Regions from separate parts of the Homo sapiens genome. Here all the other regions are reported to be linked to region 1. Evidence: microRNA targets listed by miRTarBase, many of them from high-throughput screens and not tested one by one. Region 1 holds a microRNA gene; each other region holds the end of a gene's coding sequence.

Region 1 (4,611 bases):
CGAGGACGGTGCTACCACTGGGCCAGGGGGAGGCCCGGGTCGATGGAGAGGGCTCATGAGGTCCCTCAGCTCCTCCTCGGCTGCCTCCCCCCTGCCATGGGGTCCTGGGAGGTGCAGCCACAGCCACCCAGCTCCCGAAACTTGCTCACCTGAGTGAGTTTCTGACTCGTTGTAAAGTGCGAGCTGGTGTCAGGCCCGGCTCGGAACAGCTGCTCATTTAGAGAGAATGCAGCGTTCACGGCTCAGGCCGTCGGATGAATCCACTTGACAGAGATGTTTTTACAAGGGCCAAGGGCTCTCGCTCTGAGGATCCCTGACATATGTGACCTCTTCCTTCCAGCCACGGAGACCGCCCAGCAGTTGAAGCGGAGCGCCGGGGTGCCCTTCCACGCCAAGGGCCGGGGGCTGCTGCGGAAGATGGACACCACCAGTAAGGCCCCCACCCTGGTGCCGTGAGCCTTGCTTTTGGGGCAGAGCTAAGGGCTTCACCTGGAGACCCGCTCCCTGTTGGGGAGGTGGTGCCTGTGAATGGTCTTCAGGCAGCAGTGTTGGGAGCCCGTGGGAAAGCGAAGGCACTGGGGCAATTTCACCGGCTTCTCCCCTTGGGGAGCTCCCTGGGAGGATGTGTGGGCACGGAGACAGGAGGGCCGGGATCTGAGGACAGTGCTGGGCACGGAGACAGGAAGGCCGGGATCTGAGGACACCGCTGGGCATGGAGACAGGAAGGCCGGGATCTGAGGACAGTGCTGGCCCCTGCTCCTCTGCTGTTGGCACCGGTGGCTCTCGGCCTTCCCAGCTCGGGCTTTCGGCCCCAAGTGCTGCTCTTGGGTTCCGAGTGTCCCTGGGCGGCTCCGCGGGGAGGACGTGACCGTGCTCAGCTGCCCGTGGGGCTGTGCCCCCCGCACCCCTCCATCTGCCCTTCCTGATTTGTGCTCTCAGGGCTGGGCGTGAGCTTAAGCAGGATGCACCCTGATCACAGGAAGACGGCGTGCCCCTGGGAACCATGGCAGGGCATACTCACCCCAGAGGGTGCTGGATAGTGACCTGGGGGCCAGAGGGCAGGACGGGTGTCGTCCTGTGCTGAGACAGCTGGGTAAACTTGCAGATGGGTGGGGCTGAAAGGGCAGCCTTACAGGCGCTCTCCATGCAGCTCCCAGACCAGCCTGGCTTAGTTTATTTGGGCTCCCATAATCCCACAGTGTTCACATGGGACCTAGTAGAAGGCATCTTGGGTCTGCTGACTATTGTCGCTGTGTGGGGGGCCGTCCCTGGGTCATGTTCCTGCCCACCGCAGCCGAGGTTCCACCTTGCTCTCCTCTACCCCGCCTGGAGCAGACCCTTGTCTTTCCACCCCCACCAGGCATCCCAGGGCCAGGGCTGCACCTGCTGGCCCAGGGAGGGTGGGCCAGCCGTTGAGCAGTGTGTCCAGCCTGGCCCGGTGTGCTGATGGCACCATCCCCCGGGCGTCCTCTCTCCGGGCCTGGCACCATGAGAGCCACGCACGCCTTGGAGGGTGCGTGTGGGCGCTGGTGGGTAACAGCGTAGGTAGGCCTCAGGAGTGTCCTCAGGGGACGGGGAGAAGGCTTGGGAGGGCGGCCCTCAAGCCCAGGCGCCTGGCTTCATGCCCCTGCCGGTGGAGGCACAGGAAGGAGGCAGAGCTCAGCCCCCGCCACACTGGTGAGAGACTCCACCTGGTGAGATCCTGTGGCTGGGCTGGGGTGCCGCTGTCTTTGTTTGGTGTCTTGGCAAAGTGTGAGGTCGTGGCTCCAGGCGTTCCCCTGCTCCTTGAGGTCCGGGATCCTGGGGGTCCTGCCCGCTGCCCGCCAGGGGTTTGGCCCTTCCCCTCTGCGGCGCTAGCCTAGAAGAGGGTGGGACGTTCTGAGCTCGGGGTGGGGGACGTTTGCCGGTCACTGCTGCTGGCGCCCTGACTGTTGCCGTCCTCCAGCCCCACTCAAAGGCATCCCGAAGCAGGCGCCCTTCAGAAGCCCCACGGCGCCCAGCGTCTTCAGCCCCACAGGGAACCGGACCCCCATCCCGCCTTCCAGGACGCTGCTGCGGAAGGAACGAGGTGTGAAGGTAGGCCCGTCCCCCAGCTCCTGTGGCACCCCGGGGCCCGTTGCGCCCTGGTGCCGTCACTAAGGCAGGGCTGTGCTTGTCTTGGCAGCTGCTGGACATCTCTGAGCTGGATATGGTTGGCGCTGGCCGAGAGGCGAAGCGGAGAAGGAAGACTCTCGGTGGGGGTTGGGGCCTGCGTGTCGGCGGCAATGGGGGTCCCTGCGGGCCCTGCCCAGTTGGGGTGGGTTGTGCCCACGCTCGGCGGGCAGGGCTGTGCCCCGTGAGGCTGCTCTCCGTGGGTGGGTGCCTGCTTTTCTCCTCGCTCCTTGGTGGCCTCCCCTGGGAAGCTGTTTGATTCCCTGCCGCTGCCCTGAGCTGACACTGCAGACGCGCCCGGGCACTGGCGAGGACTCCTGTTTTGTCCACAGATGCGGAGGTGGTGGAGAAGCCGGCCAAGGAGGAAACGGTGGTGGAGAACGCCACCCCGGACTACGCAGCCGGCCTGGTGTCCACGCAGGTAGGGCTCGGGGCTGCACCCCATGTCTGGCACCACTGCGGGTGCCCCTTTTGTTCCGATTGTGGCCACTAGTGTGCTCTGTCGGAGAATATATATATGTATGTACATATGTGTGCAGTCTGTATTTATGTATATATACGTATATGTACATGAGAGGCAGTGTGGGCCGTGCCCTGACATGGGCATCTGACTCAGGCTTGGAGCGGGAACCTGCCCCACGCTTGCTGGAGGGGCTGCCAGGGGAGTCCTCCTCAACCCTGTGCCTCAGTGTCCCGTCAGGCAGGGCTGGTGGGACCTAAGCCTTGCACGTGGCCGTGAATGGGTGCAGGACAGGCCTGTGGGGGTGCTGGGTGGTCAGAGGCCTCAGTGTCCCGGAGACCAGGCCCTGCCTGCGGGTGGGAGGCAGCCACGGGGCGCGGCAGGTGCACAGAGGCTGCAGTGGGTCGTCTGAGGCCAGGGCCTGGAGGAGGCCACACTGTGGGGTCACTTCAGGATAATAAGCTCCTTTCTTCCCGCCGCTGCGTGTTCTGTGTTTCTTAACATGAGCATCTTCCTTTATATCAACGCTTCGTGGTAAGAAAAAGCATCGCTCCTTCTGTGCTCAAGATGGGCTGTTTGGGCTCCTCAACCCCTCCCCTCTCCTACACAGGAGCGGCTCAGTCCCCAACTCTGCTGGGGCGCCAGGGGCCAGGGGTCCCGTTGTCTAGCCCAGGGAGCTCGGGAGAGTGGCCCCCGCCTTCCTGCTCTAGCTCGGGGGGCCACAGCCTGTGGCAGTGGAGCTCCGGGTCGGGCCATGTGTTAGCACATGCCGGAAGCATGGCCTCTTCTGGAAGGAACCTTAAACTCTGTGTTCCAGAAACTTGGGTCCCTGAACAATGAGCCTGCGCTGCCCTCCACGAGCTACCTTCCCTCCACGCCCAGCGTGGTTCCCGCCTCCTCCTACATCCCCAGCTCCGAGACGCCCCCAGGTGAGTCTGCTGGCCCCAGCCTGGAACCAGCCAAGCTGCCTGCCAGGACATGACCTTGCCCACGGGCGCTGCCAGGGCTGCGGTTCTCACTCCTGCATCTCTGTTGTCCCCCTTCTGCCTCAGCCAGAATCTGCTGGGGGCAGATGCCCCGCTGTTCAGCTTGAGCTCCAAGACATAAACCAGCTGCTTTGCCCCACCCTGCCCGTCCTGGGCACAGACAGGCAGCGGCCCCAGGGGACACGGCAGGAAGGGGATTGGGTTCGAAAGGGTTTTCTGCCAGGTGACCCAGCTCTTGTTGCTGGGTAGGCGGGAGGGGAGCTGAGAGCCATCCCCTCCCAGACGGAGGGCACTGCCAGGCTCACAGCACCTCAGGCCAGGTCCTGGGCCCAAGGGGCTTGAGGATACAGCCTTCCTGTCTTCCCAGCAGTGCCTACGGTATGGGGACCTGCTGCAGGCCAGCAGCTGGCCAGAGTCCAGACATCTTATCTGCGAGTCTGGAAAGGCCTGAGACCACTGGCCTTGTTCCTCTGGCTGGGGCTTCTGGGGCCTGTGCCTTGGCTGGGGGCCACAGGGAGTTCTTGTCAGAGGGTAGCAGGACAGAGAAGGGGAGCTGAGCCTGTCACCTCCAGGAGCACTAGGGTTTGGGAACAGGGTGGGGGTCCAGCCCCCTCACCAGGCCCCGGTCTACTTGCAGCCCCATCTTCCCGGGAAGCCAGCCGCCCACCAGAGGAGCCCAGCGCCCCGAGCCCCACGTTGCCAGCGCAGTTCAAGCAGCGGGCGCCCATGTACAACAGCGGCCTGAGCCCTGCCACACCCACGCCTGCGGCGCCCACCTCGCCTCTGACACCCACCACACCTCCGGCTGTCGCCCCTACCACTCAGACACCCCCGGTTGCCATGGTGGCCCCGCAGACCCAGGCCCCTGCTCAGCAGCAGCCTAAGAAGAACCTGTCCCTCACGGTAGGTGTACACTGGTAGGGCCCACAGGCCACCAGGTAGGTGGTACGGCCCTGGCCACCTCCCCTAGCGTGGGGGTGCCACGGTGCCTGCAGGGGGATGCAGGAGGTGGTC
Region 2 (4,305 bases), not on the chromosome of region 1:
ATCTACTTTTGGAAATGCAGGAAGTTCCCACCTTGACTATCCCAAAGATTCTGATTTGATGGAAGCATTTCATTGTAATCAGACCCAAGTCAACAGGTCAGTTCTTAATATAGAGGTTGTCATTGGTGATAAAGAGGAGGTTAAATACCAGATTTCTGTTAAATAAAAACACTTTCAATCTGTTAATTAAAATGCACAGCATTTTATAAAAATGAATAGTAGAGTGCTGGACTTACTAGGGGATGTAGGGTTCTAACAGTGAATGAATTTTAAAACAGAAAATATTAGCAAATTGGATAAGTACTTGATTTTATTCTTAGATTTGCTACTTTTTATCCTTTACTTGGGAGTTCTGAGCAGTGTTCACTGTGTTGATATAACAGCGTTTTATTTTTTCTTCTACAGATACAAGATTTCCTTACTGAAACCCTCTACAAAGGCATTAGTCCTATCTTGTAAGGTATCTATTCGGACAGATAACAGAGGCTTCCTTTCATTACAGTATATGATTAGAAATGAAGATGGACAAATATGTTTTGTGGAATATTACTGCTGCCCTGATGAAGAAGTTCCTGAATCTGAGTCTTGAGTATGACAATTCACTGATATTTATGTGTACATTTATGATAGATGAAGTTCTTATTCTGAGTACAGTACTCTTTGTCATTTCATATTGGATTTTCTATAGAGAAGAAGCACAATGGGGAAGATAGGAGCAAGGTCATGTACCCTAATAGTTACTATGTTTTGTAAATCCATTTTGTAGAGGGCATGTAAATAAATGTTTTCCTGTAGTCATAGATTATTCAGGACTGTCCTTTAGTTCTGTCTTTTGAACTCATGGGAATAATTGTGAGTCAGCGTAACATTTCAAGAGTCTAAAGGTGGCCGGGTGTGGTGGCTTTAATCCCAGCACTTTGGGAAGCCGAGGTGGGCGGATCACCTGAGGTCAGGAGTTCGAGACCAGCCTGACCAACGTGGAGAAACCCCATCTCTACTAAAAATACAAAAAATTAGCCGGACGTGGTGGCACATGCCTGTAATGCCAGCTACTCGGGAGGCTGAGGCAGGAGAATTGCTTGAACCCGGGAGGCGGAGGTTGTGGTGAGCTGAGATGACGCCATTGCACTCCAGCCTAGGCAATAAGAGCAAAACTCTGCCTCAAAAAAAAAAAAAAAAAAAGTCTAAAGGCTTAAAGTTTGATGCAGCTACCTGAAATGATCTTTTATTTATTTATTATTAGAAAAAGCAAAGGCATATGGGCATTGCTTATTAGTTTGAATTCTAGAGACTAGATCTTAAAGTAGTGGTTCTCAAAGTGTTGTGCCCGCACCAACATCAGAATGGCCTGCAAACTTGTAGCAAACTCTGGGGAGGAGGCCAGCATTCTGTATTTTAACAAGCTTCCCTCAGGAGATTCTGATGCCTGCTAAATTTTGGGAACCACTGTTTTAAAGGAAACTTTTTTTTTCTTTAATAGCATTTAATTGTATGAGATGATTGCTTTTACATGTGATTTCCTTGCAAATGTTCTGAAGTTGAGGCATCACCAAACAAGTCTGAACAATTCTTTATGTGATTTATTTTTAAAGTAGACCTTTTGAAGAGATCTATGAATGGGATATAAAGCAATTTTCAGTGTTACAGGTTTTCTTCTTCTTCTCAAAACTGTTTGCTGTAAGTAACTGCAATCAGTACTTACTACTTTCCATTTGCTTATGAGTTTCTTGACAAATCAAGGTGTAGAAAACCAGTTATTAAGTGATTTTGTACTTTCCTGGTAGTTGTCACTAAAATAATTTTTGTGGCATATAAATATATTTAATAAAATGCAAAAATTATCTTCCTGTCTAGTAGAAAAAATTACATGAGTAAAGTGAAGCTTCTGTCTTTGTTACTGTACCAGGTGACAACAGCTGAGTGTCCCTCCATGGACAGTCACTATTGGCCTTTTGAGTGAGACAGTTCTTTAGGATAAAAACCTGTCATCCCATTGCAGGATTCATTTAGCCTTTCTGGCCCTTACCCACTGATGCTAGTCATTGTGACCACCCCACCTCCCCCAAATAAAAGTGTGCCAAACTATTCATTGTTGAGAACCATTCAATTGTATTCACCAAAATTGGAGGATATATTGGAATGCCCTACCTTAATATAGGTCACATAGCATTAGAGAAAATTGGTTTGGAGAGTATTACAGCAAAGTGTGCTGCAAGGAGGCTACTCCAGCACAATGGCAGGCACTGCTTCCCAGGCATATGGACAATTCTGGGAGGTGGCCAGGGTCAGCACCTGATAACTAGTAAGTGTCTCAATCTCAGCATACAAAATTTAGCAGTGACTACAAAAGAAGTTGGAATTTTCTAAAATGTTTGTATTCAAGAAGGAAACAAATGAATTTACTAAATGTTGTCAGAGTATTTTTTGTTTAGATAACCACCAAGAACAGAACAAACCTAAAAGATACTTGGGAAAATATCTAATCAGTCAACATTCTAAGGACTGTTAAATGTGAAATAGCATAGTTATTTTTTGTCTTTTGTTACTAGTGTGAACAAAGAACGGCGCCTAACATATAATGGGCATTTAGTAACTCTGTTAGATGAAAGACTCTCCAATTTCAGATTTTCTTTTAGCATCTTATTAGTCACTACTTAATTCTGATGATTTAGCTCTAAATTTATTTTGATCTCAGTTTTTTTATTTTTATTTTTGGAGACAAGATCTTGCTCTGTTGCCCAGGCTGGAGTACAGTTGTAGGATTACAGTTCACTCCAGCCTCAATCTCCTAGGCTCAAGCAATCCTCCCATCTCAGCTTCCCAAATAGCTACGACTACAGGTGCATGCCTCCATGCCCTGCTAATTTTTGTATTTTTTGTAGAGATGGGGTTTTACTATGTTCCCTAGGCTAATCTTGAACTCCTGAGCTCAAGCAATCCACCCGCCTCGGCCTCCCAAAGGGCTGGGATTACAGGCGTGAGCTATCATGCCTGGCCTAATGTATTTTTTAAAAGTTGAATCTAAAAAGAATTTAAAACAAATATAAATCAGCTCAGTAAGGATGGATATTTTTGTACATTTAAAACTATTATTTTAGGCCGGGAGTGGTGGCTCACACCTGTAATCCCAGCATTTTGGGAAGCCGAGGCAGGGGGATCATCTGAGGTCAGGAAGTTCGAGATCAGCCTGGCCAACATGGTGAAACCCCTACCTCTACTAAAAATACAAAAATTAGCTGGGTGTGGTGGTGGGTGTCTGTAATCCCAGCTACTTGAGAGGCTGAGGCAAGAGAATCACTTGAAACTGGAAGGCGGGGGTTGCAGTGAGCCGAGATTGCACCATTGCACTCCAGCCTGGGTGACAGAGCAAGACTCCGTCTCAAAAACAAAAAAAATTAAAATAAAAATTATTGTTTTAGCTGCATGTCTTCAGCTATTTAGAATTCAAAGACTAATGAATTGTTTCTAAGTCACCCTAACATCAAGGTACTTATTTTATAAAGAATTTCCTCCTTATTTGTGTTCTAATTGACCCAGGAATTTTTACTTTAATAAAAGTTTAACTTTATTTCCTATGGAAAATCACTAGGGGGAGTGCTCCCTCAGGCAGAGCAGGCGACACTTTGGTGCCACTACAAATTGATGTGTAGTATATAGAAGAATACAGTCTTATATTTAAAGACTTTTAGTTCTGTCTTTTTGAAGTTTATCTCTCTTTCTAGTAAAATGGTGCTTACTGTGAATGGATAATCTTTTTTTTCATTTTTCATTTGTTGATTTCCCATTCGATGATGTAGTGCTTCCACCGAGAATTGATGAAATGCTTCAAAATAATAAAAGTATTTGTTAAATTCCACTTTAATAAAAATAAGGCATGTAACACAGTCATTTTAACAGGAAGCCACAGGGTTTCTGTGGTGTTACCAAAGTCCTAGTAAAAATTAATTAAAATTGCTAAAAGGGCAGAATGTGGCACTCTCAACAGTGGGGTAGGCAGTCCTTCAGAACATAGAGACTTCCTTCTTTCCTTCCCTGTCTTCACATTGCTTGTCCCTTATCCCCACCTGAAATAAAATCTATTGGGTCCTGAGAAATCGGAGTGTATAGTATTTTTTCTTTTCCCAATTATGTTTGTAATTTGCTTTCATTCTCTTTGGAATAGGCAGTGCTGCTTTTATACTAGAATCAGGTTACAAGCACCCCAGGAGGAGTCATTAGCTTTAACAGAATTTCCCTCTCAGGAGTGGACAGCTAGTGTTCTAAACAGAAACACCAAAAGCAGCGGTTTCAAGTGCTTTTCGTATC
Region 3 (4,305 bases), not on the chromosome of region 1:
GCAAATGAGAGACAAATCTACTGGCCAAAATAAAGTCTTCCTCTTGCTGCAGCTGTGTTGTCTGCATGCTACCATTACAAAGGGACTCCTGATGGGGTCAAAACAAAGCAAAAAACGTCTTTATGAAAAATGGTCATTGGCCGGGCATGGTGGCTCACGCCTGTAATCCCAGCACTTTTGGAGGTTGAGACGGGTGGGTCACTTGAGGTCAGGAGTTCGAGACCAGTCTGGCCAACATGGTGAAACCCCATCTCTACTAAAAATACAAAAATTAGCCGGGCATGGTGGCGTGCGCCTGTAATCTCAGCTACTTGGGAGGCTGAGGCAGGAGAATGCTTGAACCTGGGAGATAAGGTTGCAGTGAGCCAGGATTGCACCACTGCACTCCAGCCTGGGCGACAAGAGTGAAACTCTCAGAAAAGAAGAATGGTCATTAAATGAAAGAATCAATAAAATCTGGTTAGTTTGTGTGAAGATACACTTAGGAAGCACATGGCTTTCAACAAAAATGTGATTTAGCGGAGAGCCTGGAGTCTGCTGGTATTTTGTCTTATCCTCCCACACCAAGGTGCGACTGTGTTCATTTATTAAATTTGATGCTCCCTGTTGATGATGTGTTCTTGGTAAATGGAATCCATGAACTTTTAATCTGTAGTTCACAACTATCCCTCCACGTGTGTTTCTTTTCCCAGGTACTGGTCTTCTTGGACATTAATCTTTGAATACTTGCTGACTGCTAAGAAATGACCAGAGGGGAAGAGGAGTTTGACATGTTAGGGCATTAAAGCAAAGGTGGATTTAAGAATTAAACCATTACATGCCCCTTCCAAAAGGCAGAAATCCATTCAAACGTGACTGTCCCAAATGCCTTATGTCAAATAAAGCAGATTGCACTGATGGACATCAGACTTGAAGGAAATGTTTCCAATTTTATATTTAAGGGGGGTGGTGGGTGGGAGGGGGCAAGTAAAGACGGAACAAGTTTAGTAGCAGTAATAGTAAATCATGTTTACATATGAGATTTATAGTCGTGGGAGGGGAATAAAGTTCTGTTATATTTCCTTGCTCGAGTTTCATACCAGATGCGTTGGTCCATAAAGGATTGTATCAAGTAGATGGGACAACATTCTGCTCTGAACGAAAAGTAATTTTAGAGACATAACCTGCTTACCAATGCCTGTCTTTGATTCATATTCTACTTTCAATAAAGCATGAAAGTGAAGAACTTGTCCTAAGTGTGGAAAAGTGTCTTCAGATTTAGACTCTTCTCCATGTCAGCTGCAGCGCCACCCGCCTTACACCTGCCCGGCCGTCTGTCTCTTGGTATTGGGTAAAGGAGGGGGCACCTGCATGTCTCCTGCAATGAGCAAGGAATTATGTCTCATGTTTTGACTTCAGAGGCTTTTTGCTTTGGTGCATTTCAGAAAGGATGGAGAACATTTATTATGTGTGAAAGCATCCTCTTCCGGTTTTGCTGTTATTCAAAAGTGGGAAATGTACCTGGCACGTTTGAAAATAAAAAATCTGACTACCTATCAGAAGAGTAAATCAGACTGAAGTACATTTGGATAACACAAGGTTTCTATAAAATTTGTTCTTCCTGTCCTCCATGTCACTGTTTCTTGGACCTCAGTTCTCTTTTTGAAAGCATTATTCCAAAATGCCCTGAGAGGGTCTCTTAGATCATTGTTTAAAAAAGGAAAAAAGTATATGGATGTGCTGTCCATCCAACTCAGGATTATCATTCTTAGCAACACGTAACCGAAGCAATATTCTTAAGAATATTGAAGGGGTTTTTTTAATTGAACTTAAGACTGGAGTTTTTCCTTTGAAAAAAAAAAAAAAGTTTTCTCTGTTGAGTCCGTCTGTGTAAGTTTGTGGCTGAGATGCTAGCTTAGGCATCTCTCTTGTTAACACTTTTCTTGGCCTTGGGTTTGTGCAAGGCTTTTTCCCCCTTTCATGAAAATGTGAACTCAGATCATGGATGGGGAAGGCAGATTTTGATTTGAGACCCGATAACCTTGGCAGCATCCCTTTTGAATAGCTCCTTTTGTCAGAGTAATTACGGCCATTTGGTAAAATTCTAACTTCGTGTTTGTGTTTCCCCTCTGTGTTTCTAATGTCTTCAGTCTGTGTCCCCTGAGGAGGCAGGGGGTCTCTAATGAGCCTATCTATGGGGGAAGGTGAGAGCTGCACACAGCCCCCTGAGAAACCATCCTAGGAGTGGAACCAAGGGACCAACTGTTCTGGCCTTGAGGTTGGCACAGGGGAAGGACTTGAAGTTGAGCTGATGGATCCTGATTTTTAGATCTCATTGTTTTATTAGCTCCAAAGAAATGAATGCAGGAGCCTAAAACTAATAACACAAACTTCTTCTTTCCCAAGGTAAAGACTTTTATAAAAGTTCGCACAATGCTTGATTGAAGCCACTTCCTTTTCCTTACAAAGAAGCTTGTTGGCCAGAGAAGGTTCTTTTTGGGGATTGACATAAACATGTTAGCAGCCCCCAGAAATCTGATATATTTTCCCCAATTTGCTGTTGATAACAGTTTTGAAATTTGTTACTTGGGTATTTTTTCCTCCTGCAATGCTACGAAATAACAGCCTTTTGTAAATCTTTCAGGCTGGTGGTACCTGCTCTGAGTACTGGCTTCTTTATTATCTCTGTCCAGGGGTGGGGTGGGCACCGAGTGAGCAGGTGATGCTGCAAGAGTCTGCCCTTGGCTCAGGGTCATCTTCCTCCTGCTCTGACAACTTGCCTTGTTCTGCCAGCACTGCTGAAAGTAACTGCAGCCCAGCGGCTCCAGTGACACTGTGAAGCTTTATTACCAAGGCAGGAGCTCAGGCCCTAGACCCGCTGAATCGGAATCTGCATCCACAGGCCACTCCTGTACTCTTTGAAACCCTGGGCTTGGGGCCTCTCCCACCCATAGTAGGCAGAGTTGCAAAGAAACGTATGCTTGTATTGAATGGTTTTGCATTGCCACCCTTCTCACTTGGTACAGGGAAAAACAGGTAAAGGGTATGACCTAAAGCCCGATTCTCGTTTCGTCTGTAATTATGAATAGATGGAGTCCATTTGCCTTCTGGACTGTGAAAAGTTCAGAGACTCTTTGTGTTGGGGTTCTAATGCCATGCATGTGTACTTTTTTATATTAGATCAGTCTCCGGTATAAGGTATTATGAAGCTTGGGTCTTTTCCCCTTGATATTTCTGACCATTCTTTAATCTGAAACGAATGTGTTCAGCATACTACACTGGTACAGATTGTCACCACGAACTGAAATATAGGCTGCATTTGGGTGTCTTCATTTCCTGGGGAGTAAGTATCTTTCTGTGTATTTATGAACTCTATTGTTTAGAATTACTGTTACCTTCCTGCCAAATTTAAAAGATATGAGTGTCCCTTTATTTCTGTGGGAGCATAATCCATAGTGAATTTTTTGGTTATTTTAAATGTGCTTTTGGTTGGTCTATGTGGTCATAGATCTGTTCATCAGACTCTGGTTAATATTGGAATCTAATGCTCAGGTTGAATAACCTGTTTTAAAAACCCAAGGGATGATTTATCTCTGTCTAAACAAACCGCTGAAGCGAAATGAGCAAGAAAGCCTGTCTTTCCTGTTACCGAATCATGGGGCAGAATCATATCCTTTCTCTTGGGTACTTTAGTCCTCAGCTCATTCAGTGTTAATAGGGGACTGCGAACAGAGTGCATGCAGATTAAAAGCCAGCGTTTTCATTTTAAGAAGATTTTCCCAGCCTGAGAAACATAGTGAGACTTCATCTCTATAAAAAAGCAAAAATTAGCCAGGTATGCCGGTGGTCCCAGCTACTCTGGAGGCTGAGGCAGGATAATTGCTTGACCCCAGGAGGTCGAGGCTGCGGTGAGCTGTGATCACACCACTGCACTCAGCTTGGGCGACAGAGTGAGACCTTGTCACAAAAAAAAAATGTGCATGTCTGTGATAACGCCCCATACTCCCACCCCCACCCCAGAGTACAGGGTTTTGTCAACAACATTTCTACTTCTGAAAGCTGGCATCACCACCCCCACCCAAAACACACACACACGCGCGCGCGCACACACACACACACACACACACACCCATCTCCTAGACATTCTGTAGGCAGAAATACTGGCTGGGGATTTATCAACATTATTCGAACCCTCTATTTTTCATTAAAGTACAAATTATAAACATTTGTAAAATGGTAGGTAGCACTTTGTTGATTTCCCTGAGCAACATTTCTGTGTCAGGTAGTGTGTGCCAGGTAGACAGTCTCATTGGCAGACAAAACCAC
Region 4 (4,305 bases), not on the chromosome of region 1:
TCTACTTAAAAACTTAGCCAGGTGTGGTGGTGTGTGCCTGTAATCCGAGCTACTTGGGAGGCTGAGACAGGAGGATAGCTTGAGCCCAGGAGTTCAAGTGCAGTGAGCTACAACTGCACCACTGCACTCCTGCCTGGGCAACAGATTGAGACTCTGTCTTAAGAAGAAGAAAAGTACCAATTTGCTTTTCTAGAAGAGAAATTTTTAGTGGATTCACATTCCAACATGTAAAAAAGTGGCTGAAAATATTTCTAATAATGTGATACTTCTTGATCAGGTCAGATTAGTTTGCATGAAACAGTCCCAACACTTTCTATTGCAGAATAGATGCCCTTGCCCAAAGCAAGCAAATCAAGTAACAATTACAACAGATCTGGACAGTTGTAGCACCATGGGGATTTTCTAATCTGTTTTCTCTTTTGTTCTGCAGGTCTATTCCTTATCCTCGGTTTGATACTCTACCCTGCTGGCTGGGGTTGCCAGAAGGCCATAGACTACTGTGGACATTATGCATCTGCCTACAAACCTGGAGACTGCTCCTTGGGCTGGGCCTTTTATACCGCCATTGGGGGCACAGTCCTCACTTTCATCTGTGCTGTCTTCTCTGCACAAGCAGAAATTGCAACCTCTAGTGACAAAGTACAGGAAGAAATTGAAGAGGGGAAAAATCTGATCTGCCTCCTTTAGTTTGGAAGAGACAATGCCATTTTCTCCCTTGAGTAATCTTGTGAAACAGTCCACAGTTTCATCATTTGAGTCAAGTGGAGAACTAACCTTTACCTACCAAAGCCACGTTCCACGGCCCGAGGCTTAAACAGGACCAATGAGAGGCCACATCCAGCTACGCAAAGTTACTGGACATGCGGTCTGCAGTGCACATTATAAGGAATGGAACATGAAAATAGTATATAATCCTAGACCTGGAGTTGCCAAGTTCTGTCAGACTCCATCTCCCCCAGGTTCAATGAAGGATAATAATCTAAATCATTAGGGCAGCAGTTTCTCTGGTAACGGAAGAGACCGTCCGCCAGATCTGCAGGCTGTTTCTGCTCCAACACTGCTTGCTTGTGAGCATCTCTGCCTCAGAATGGGGTTTTGGGTTGGAGTTCTTGTTTTCCTCTGTTCTTTCAAGTTGTCTCCAACGAACAGAAAACTATAAACTTACTGGGGACAGGATGTGTGCTAAAGGGCACAGCAAGACACTGTCTTTTGCTTAGCTGACCAAAGGGGTCAGCAGGGATGGCGTGGAGTCATGCTGTGGAACTTATTCTAGGCTGAATCCTAGGGTAAGGTGGATCAACTGAACTGTCACTCCAGAGATTTTAGAAATTTGAGTAAAGAAACAATAAGGACCTATACAATCATATGAGAACAAAAATATGAAATCTTGCTAGTGAAGACGTATTTTTTCTTCTTCCCAGCAGCCAGGCTAGCACCAGTTCTGGCCCAGTCTCCTCTTCTTCTGGAGATCACATGTTTTTCTTCTAAGGTTAGGATTGTGCTTTGACTGCGAAAGGAAACCTCACTGTTTCCTCCTTCCAGGGACTGAGGTCTCCAAGCTAGCTGTGGCTTATGCAGATGTTCACTGGGAGGACCTGCCAGAATCTCGGCACTTGGGGGGAGACCTTTACTCCCAGTTTGGTGACCATGCTGTAGTCAGCTCTATTTCCAATCCCGACAGTAGCAGAATGGCATTCTACAACAAAAAGAAGCTAGTTATGGGAGTTAAGTTTTTGTAGTTACTGGTGTTGATCCTGAAAGCAGACTGAGATAACATTAAATTGCTGCAACTGAAGAACTGCAGCCAAGACCTTAATTCCAGGAAAGCACAGAGGACAAAGTTAATTCAAAAAGAGGCGCTAGATCAAGGTCACAGCACTGCCTACACCTGTTTACAAAAAGAATCAAATACCACTATGAATAAGGATTCAGGGGTTTTTAATCTACTTTCCATAAATTACCAATATCACTGATTCAGGAAGATAGTATCTCAGAATGACCAGAGCAGCACAGAAACAAGCTACTCTGACATTATGGGAGCTTCAAAATTGTATCATGATACAGAAACACTCCTTAGCACTTTAAGAAAGTGAGATGGAACTGCCAGATTTCTGGAAGGAGAAAAAGTGTAGGTATTTGGGTTCATTAATCTGCTCACTTGAGGACTTTGTTTTGAAAAAGTACCTTCTGTGGACAAGGTATTGTGCTACCAGCTATACAACCCTGACTTCAGAGTTTGCAACCTTGCCCTGAGTGAATCATGTTAAAGCTGTCTGAGTCTAAAGCACCGTATCTTGGTGCAGAACAGATAATTATACAGAGATGGAATGGGACAACCGCAGTTTTACTACATTCTGGTGTTTGGCCTATATGAGAAACCATCTTCTCACAGATTAAGGGCTAAGGGCAAAAGGGGTGGGAGGTGTGGAACTAGCCTTAATGAGTTTCCCATTCCTGAACCAAAATTCAAAGTGAGTGAGATGTAAATCCTGTGATTTTGGTGAAGAAAAAAACGGGTATCTTCATAGCAGCCTAGGAAACCTTAACCATATCTCTAACACCACACAGAAAGAGGCTGGAGGAGCCACTGGACAAAGCTTCTGTCTCTGTGTGTACATTTATAATGTTCTAACCAAGTCTCAAACCTTGATGAAAAACACAAAATTTTTCCATAAACTTATCAGAAGACTCACTTTTCTTTCTTTCTTGGATAGAGAAACCATTTTCTGACACTAGGTTTACAATCTCAGTGTCCTTACAAGTTAAGTCCTAAGCTCACAGGATCCTCCGAGCATGTCCATCACCTGCTCTTTGGCTAAGGTGGCAGTGTACCTCTAGATCAACCTGGGAACAGTCACAAGGGAGTGTGACTTCTTGGCCATAATAAACTCACTCGATAGTGTTTATGTTATTAATCTGAATGCAACAGAAGACAAAAGCACAGGCATGCACACACACAGAACCCCAAACCACTAAAAACTACCTAAACACTGACTTAGTAAATAGTAAAAAGGTAATGTTGGGACTTTTAAACCTTGAATCCATTAGCCAGGCTTGGGATGAAAGGACCATCTAAAATCATGCTAGTCTAAACCATGCTCTTCCACACAGCTGTTTAAAAACCACTGGGTATGAGGAATATGCTAGAAAGAAATGTTAAAAATAGATTGTTGGCTCACACTTATTTTTCTAATAAATAGGACCATTATTACTACCAGGAAAGTCTTATTTATTTTGCCTGAAATTGGCTTAAAGAAAGTCTCATGACGGGATGGGATGGGCTGCGCTTCTCAATGAACTCTGAGGCAGAAATATTTGCCTTGGATTCTGTGGATTCTTTAAACCTGTGTGCTAATAATTCAAACAATGTTGCATTAATTGTATAAGGGTTTTTGTATAGTTTTCAAACATCTGTGGTGTAATGATCTTTGTTAAACATATATTCTGTAAAGTGCCATAGTCTTTTTTTATGTGTAGCATATTTAAAAATATATATGTATATTATACATACACAAGTTTGTGTGAAAGATGTGCAATAACAAAGGTGTATGTATGTTTTGTTGTTTTGTTTTGGAAACTGGACAGGAGTCAAAACAGGGATGTTTGTTTCTGTTTTGGCAAGGAGAGTTCCACATTTTTGCCTTCATGGCTTATTCAGTAACCCATAATTTTAATGCTACACAAATCTTATGTGAAGAAAAGACTGGTATGAAATCATTTTTTCCTGGGTCTAAAATAATCGCTAGTGTTATGTCAAAGTTAAGCCCGCACGCCAGGCCCAGTTAATGCTAGTCTTTCATGTGAAATGTGAAGCTGCCATGTTGCCTTTTCTCTTAGTAGGATAACTAGTAGCTGGTACATAATCACTGAGGAGCTATTTCTTAACATGCTTTTATAGACCATGCTAATGCTAGACCAGTATTTAAGGGCTAATCTCACACCTCCTTAGCTGTAAGAGTCTGGCTTAGAACAGACCTCTCTGTGCAATAACTTGTGGCCACTGGAAATCCCTGGGCCGGCATTTGTATTGGGGTTGCAATGACTCCCAAGGGCCAAAAGAGTTAAAGGCACGACTGGGATTTCTTCTGAGACTGTGGTGAAACTCCTTCCAAGGCTGAGGGGGTCAGTAGGTGCTCTGGAGGGACTCGGCACCACTTGATATTCAACAGCCACTTGAGCCAAATATAAAATTGTATTTACAGCTGATGGACTCAATTTGAGCCTTCAAACTTGTAGTTATCCTATTATATTGTAAACTAATACATTGTCTAGCATTGATTTGGTTCCTGTGCATATGTATTTTCA
Region 5 (4,305 bases), not on the chromosome of region 1:
TTGTTTTATCAGAAATTACCATTTGCAAAGGGAAATAATATTGGGCAATTTTAGAGACTCTAAGTAATTAGCAATACCATGGGAAAGTTGTGGTAAGACATGAGGTTTTGCATTTTCTCCACAATTAAAAAGCATAATGTAAAATTTAATATTTGTTGTCCACTAAATTACCTTGATGTCCAAAGAAAAACAAAAGGCATTTGAAATGTTCCCCTTGGTAACACTTTGCAATAAGTGGCACTAAATTACACGATAACTGCTATGTTACATGGAAGAGCCATCACTGTCAAACAGCTGCTATACATGTGCCTATATGAAATCTCAATGCTGTTACAATCATGAGTACATAATTACAAATGAGCCTGTACTTTTGATTGAGATATTTATATTTTTACAAAGAAATAAAAATAAATGAGGTGTTAGTTTCTTTGCCATATTTAGGAAAGTTAGTTTTCTTTCTCTATTTGTTATTTTAATTGTGGAGTTTCAATGAAAGATTAAGCATCATGAATCAATATGAGATCATCCAGTTTCTAGATTAAACTCCAATATCAGGTTCCTTAAACTGCTTCTTGGATTCTCTGGTAAAAGAAAACAAGTTGAAATTTCTCTCTCTTTTCGATTTCTCTTTCTCTCTTATACACACACATATACACACACACAAACACGCACACCATCAGTACTCTGCTCATGCGCTCTGTCTTTAATCTTGCACTCACAAACATTTCTTTTTCCTCCTACTTTTGATAATAATCCTATCTAGAACACCCAAAAATGGAAAATAAAAAAGAAAAGAAAAGTAAAATGCCGCTTAGACTTGATTTTGACGGAGGACAATCAATTTACACTGTAAACAGTACACTGGCAGAGAATAGCTACTTTTGGTAAAGAATAATGCTCCATATTCTACTAAGGGTGTGTGTGTGTGCACACTGCTTCCATTGAGTTCCCTACCTACTGTGCTCACTTAGAAGAGACAGAAATTGACTCTATGTGCACACAAGTGTGCATGTTCCAGACAATGAAATTGACATCATTCTCATTTAGAAATATTATGTCATTATTTTCTGACTTGTTGGAATAGAAATGAGCATAATTTTTACAATTTATTTTTTGTTTGGTTGAAAATTAAATAATTTTTAAAGGTATGAAAATATGACTTCATTGATATTGTTTTCTCCAGTTCAGAACATGGTGTCTCATTTAAATCAAACTATATTTAATAGGCAAACATTTAATTAGATCCCACAAATTATAATATACCAGCATTTATAACTAGTATAATAATCTAGTTGTTTTAGCTAACTGGTTTTATAAGAGTTCTAATGAGATTTTATATTACTCTGAAGGGTTAAAAGAGTCAAAAATCATGAAATGCAACCAATTTTGGATTTCTAATTTTACAGTGCTATAAATAATGATTGAGTTATTTAGGCAACAATTTAGTTGTTGGAGCCAAGTAGAATATAGATGAAATGAAGAGGGATGTAAATACGGCATCGATGAAGAGTAGCAATTTTGTAAGTGCATCCTGAAATTAGGCTTTACATAGTAATTGATGATGCAGTTTGTACAACTTACTTCTGTAATAAGAACCTTTCCATTTTGTACTAACAGGATGAATTTTGCTTTGTGGAGTCTTTCTAAAGATTATGCATTGAAAGATATGAACAGTTTATAAACCTATTCTAGTTTCAATGTGTCTAGTAGCACCTACCTGATTCTCTCAAACTACCATACTATATTAACATATTATTGCATTTTTCCACAGATGGTATGGAGTGAACTGTAAAAACAAGCATGCAATCACATCAATGCAGACTTATTTCCTTAAAATGTCATACTGTATATGATTTATTATGTTAACACTCAACCACATCATATTATTTATGTTCTGTATATTCTGAAAAAGTGCTGCTTGACTGACATCGTCCTTTTTCTTTTGTAAGAAATCAACAAGATAAATGCTTCAACAATCAAAAAAAAACTTTAAAATTCTAACATTTTCCTTAAAAGATTTATACTTTTTTGATAAATAATCAAAGATACAGCACCCTTGTCTTTCATTTGATATTAATACATGATGTTGCACTCAACCATTCTTATTACCCAAAAATATATTCCACAATACTATTTTTAAAACCATAGGCCATCATGCGTCAGACATCACAAGTATAGCTACCATACTGTCATATTTGTTTTCTTCTTAAAGGTGCAATGCTTGTAAATGGGATTTTTTTAAATCTAACTGGAGTTTTATTCTTTAGCATATAATAAATTTAATGAGAACTAATCTAACAATATTTTATTTTACTAGAAGAAATAATAAGACTTTAGATTAACTGTTTCATATTTAAGAATACAGCATTTCTTAATGGTTAAACACGCCAAAATTTTAAAATAATCCAGAGAAAGAGACTTTCACTTTGGAGTTAAAAGCATGGCAGAAATTCTCTATCACTCACTGTTTCATCAGTTTGTACCTCACAAAATGCATAGACAGGAATTTAATATAAAGAATTAGTTCATTTATACAGAAAACATATCTTAAACACTTCTTTTTGGCAAACCAACATAGGTAAGCAGCTCTGGAACTGCAAAATGAAAATTTGTAAATTTTTAGCAAACTAAAATTTATTTTTAGGTTATTATTCAACTGTGGTTGTAATTTAAAACCTGAGGCTGTGCACTGGTTGTTAGCTTAAAATTACCTTTCCTTATAACATTGTGCTTCCATTGTATAACAAATAAAAATTAACAAGAACTAGAAAAATTTGTTGTTGAACAGTGCTAGGACATACAGACAAAAATACTAATACATGTTATCTACTTATAATATTGGTTTAAGTAATACCTAAAGGGATATAATGGACGTTAGAAAATGCTTACTTATGACTGAATTACATACAGCCAAAAAAGTTAAATATGTATCAAATAATGTTTAATTGGATTTATTATATGCACTATATACAGATACTAAAATGTCTGAAAATTGTGCCCTATGGATACTTCAATATTGTTTAGGCAGGTGAATCTTTATGAAGCAAATAAATTATAGAATCAAATTAGAGAAATGAATTAAATATTTGTGATTCCAAAAGCAGTAAATCATTTGGAATAATTTATTGGTAAATGAAGCTACAATATCCTAATAGTAAGATCTCTATAATTATAGAAAATACCATGTCATGATTGCAATTCGTACACATGGCTCCTGTATCAAATACTATATTTCAATAGCAAATCGATACAGCTTTACCAGTATAATCTCCAACATTCCAAAAACTACACTATAGTGTTTTTTTTTAATTTTATGTTTTCTAGGACATATGTTTCCAAAGCATGTTGTCTTTGAAGACAGACATGTAGAAAACATTAATTGTAAACCTCTAACCTTCACTTATTCTTAAATACATTATGTCCTTCCCTAATCCTGTTACTTGTGAAAGCTGTCCAATGGCAAACTGATAAGGTCTATGACTTAAAGGGGAAAAAATGGGGGAAAAAAACTCTGCATACATTTTTTAATGTATAAAAACCACTCAATATAATGATCCAAGGAGATGATTAACATTGTTAAGGCTGTATATTCAAGCACTGTATGTTAAAAGAGCAATGGTGTGAAATTTAGGCAGTAAGAAATGTCCTGCATTATGGATGGTACAGTAATTAAAGAATGATGCTTTCAACAGCTGATTGTTGGTATACACTGGCTACTGATAGCAGTACAGTATGGGAGTTAATAAGGGTAGCAGACGATGGTAGAAATGACTTCTGAAAGATGATAGCCAGTTTTCTCCAGCATTCAGCCTGGTAGTAAAACTCAGAATCTTGGCCTGCATCTTAAATGAAATACTCTTTTTTCTCTTCAGCATTGACTTGGCTGCCTTCAGCATTGATAATGGCTGTATCAGCATCTGGTGCATCTTCAGCTCCTTTAGCTTCATTTGTTAAATACGTTCCTGCATATATTGGAAGAAAAATATGTTAGCTCTGTGAGACTGGTAAAATACCCAGCATTAAAGCTACATTATTTAGGAAGAAACTTTTGCCAGATTTTTGAGACCTAATATGCTACCCGATTGACTCTTCTAAAGTTGCACTGTTTTCTTACAGTTTTCAGGTACGCTGCAGGTGAAGTTATGGCTTGATTTACTACAGGCAAGAGCCAAACTGAAATGGGTAATAAGTAATTGTGACTTCTTTAATGATGGATAAAATCAATGTGAACCTTACAGCTGTAGCAAACAGGGTCTTTTGTTAAGATCTTTTTTTTTTTTTTTTTTTTTTTTTTGAGACGGAGTC

The links. Region 1 holds the annotated microRNA hsa-miR-943 (CUGACUGUUGCCGUCCUCCAG, at 1,925-1,945, shown strand). A microRNA usually pairs through its seed, bases 2 to 8, with sites in the 3' UTR of a target mRNA and lowers its output. Matches are read on the target gene's strand: a 7mer-m8 pairs with bases 2 to 8, a 7mer-A1 pairs with bases 2 to 7 and ends in A, and an 8mer does both.
Region 2: the mRNA of RAD1 is a reported target of hsa-miR-943. Seed matches in the 3' UTR shown: 7mer-m8 at 1,935-1,941, 7mer-A1 at 2,485-2,491 and 7mer-m8 at 3,882-3,888.
Region 3: the mRNA of USP48 is a reported target of hsa-miR-943. The part of its 3' UTR that is shown has no 7-base or 8-base seed match.
Region 4: the mRNA of LHFPL2 is a reported target of hsa-miR-943. Seed matches in the 3' UTR shown: 7mer-m8 at 2,851-2,857.
Region 5: the mRNA of CADM2 is a reported target of hsa-miR-943. Seed matches in the 3' UTR shown: 7mer-A1 at 1,919-1,925.

The regions. Positions count from the first base shown.
Region 1 is chr4:1,983,737-1,988,347 of GRCh38, reverse strand. It overlaps MIR943 (microRNA 943), which reads left to right and starts at 1,871; the gene lies at 1,871-1,964. It overlaps NELFA (negative elongation factor complex member A), which reads left to right. Exons shown (of 11, transcript NM_005663.5): 4 at 341-430; 5 at 1,946-2,076; 6 at 2,165-2,234; 7 at 2,484-2,572; 8 at 3,429-3,540; 9 at 4,235-4,500.
Region 2 is chr5:34,905,049-34,909,353 of GRCh38, reverse strand. It overlaps RAD1 (RAD1 checkpoint DNA exonuclease), which reads left to right. Exons shown (of 6, transcript NM_002853.4): 5 at 1-96; 6 at 406-4,094. The coding sequence ends at 589. It also overlaps a transcript of TTC23L not described here. Among named protein-coding and RNA genes, the nearest start is that of RAD1, 8.3 kb to the left of the region's middle.
Region 3 is chr1:21,675,827-21,680,131 of GRCh38, reverse strand. It overlaps USP48 (ubiquitin specific peptidase 48), which reads left to right. Exons shown (of 27, transcript NM_032236.8): 27 at 693-1,834. The coding sequence ends at 715. Among named protein-coding and RNA genes, the nearest start is that of RAP1GAP, 8.6 kb to the right of the region's middle.
Region 4 is chr5:78,485,279-78,489,583 of GRCh38, reverse strand. LHFPL2 (LHFPL tetraspan subfamily member 2) reads left to right here. Exons shown (of 5, transcript NM_005779.3): 5 at 431-4,305. The coding sequence ends at 687. Among named protein-coding and RNA genes, the nearest start is that of SCAMP1, 130 kb to the right of the region's middle.
Region 5 is chr3:86,066,322-86,070,626 of GRCh38, reverse strand. It overlaps CADM2 (cell adhesion molecule 2), which reads right to left. Exons shown (of 10, transcript NM_001167675.2): 10 at 1-3,962. The coding sequence ends at 3,844. Among named protein-coding and RNA genes, the nearest start is that of CADM2-AS2, 240 kb to the right of the region's middle.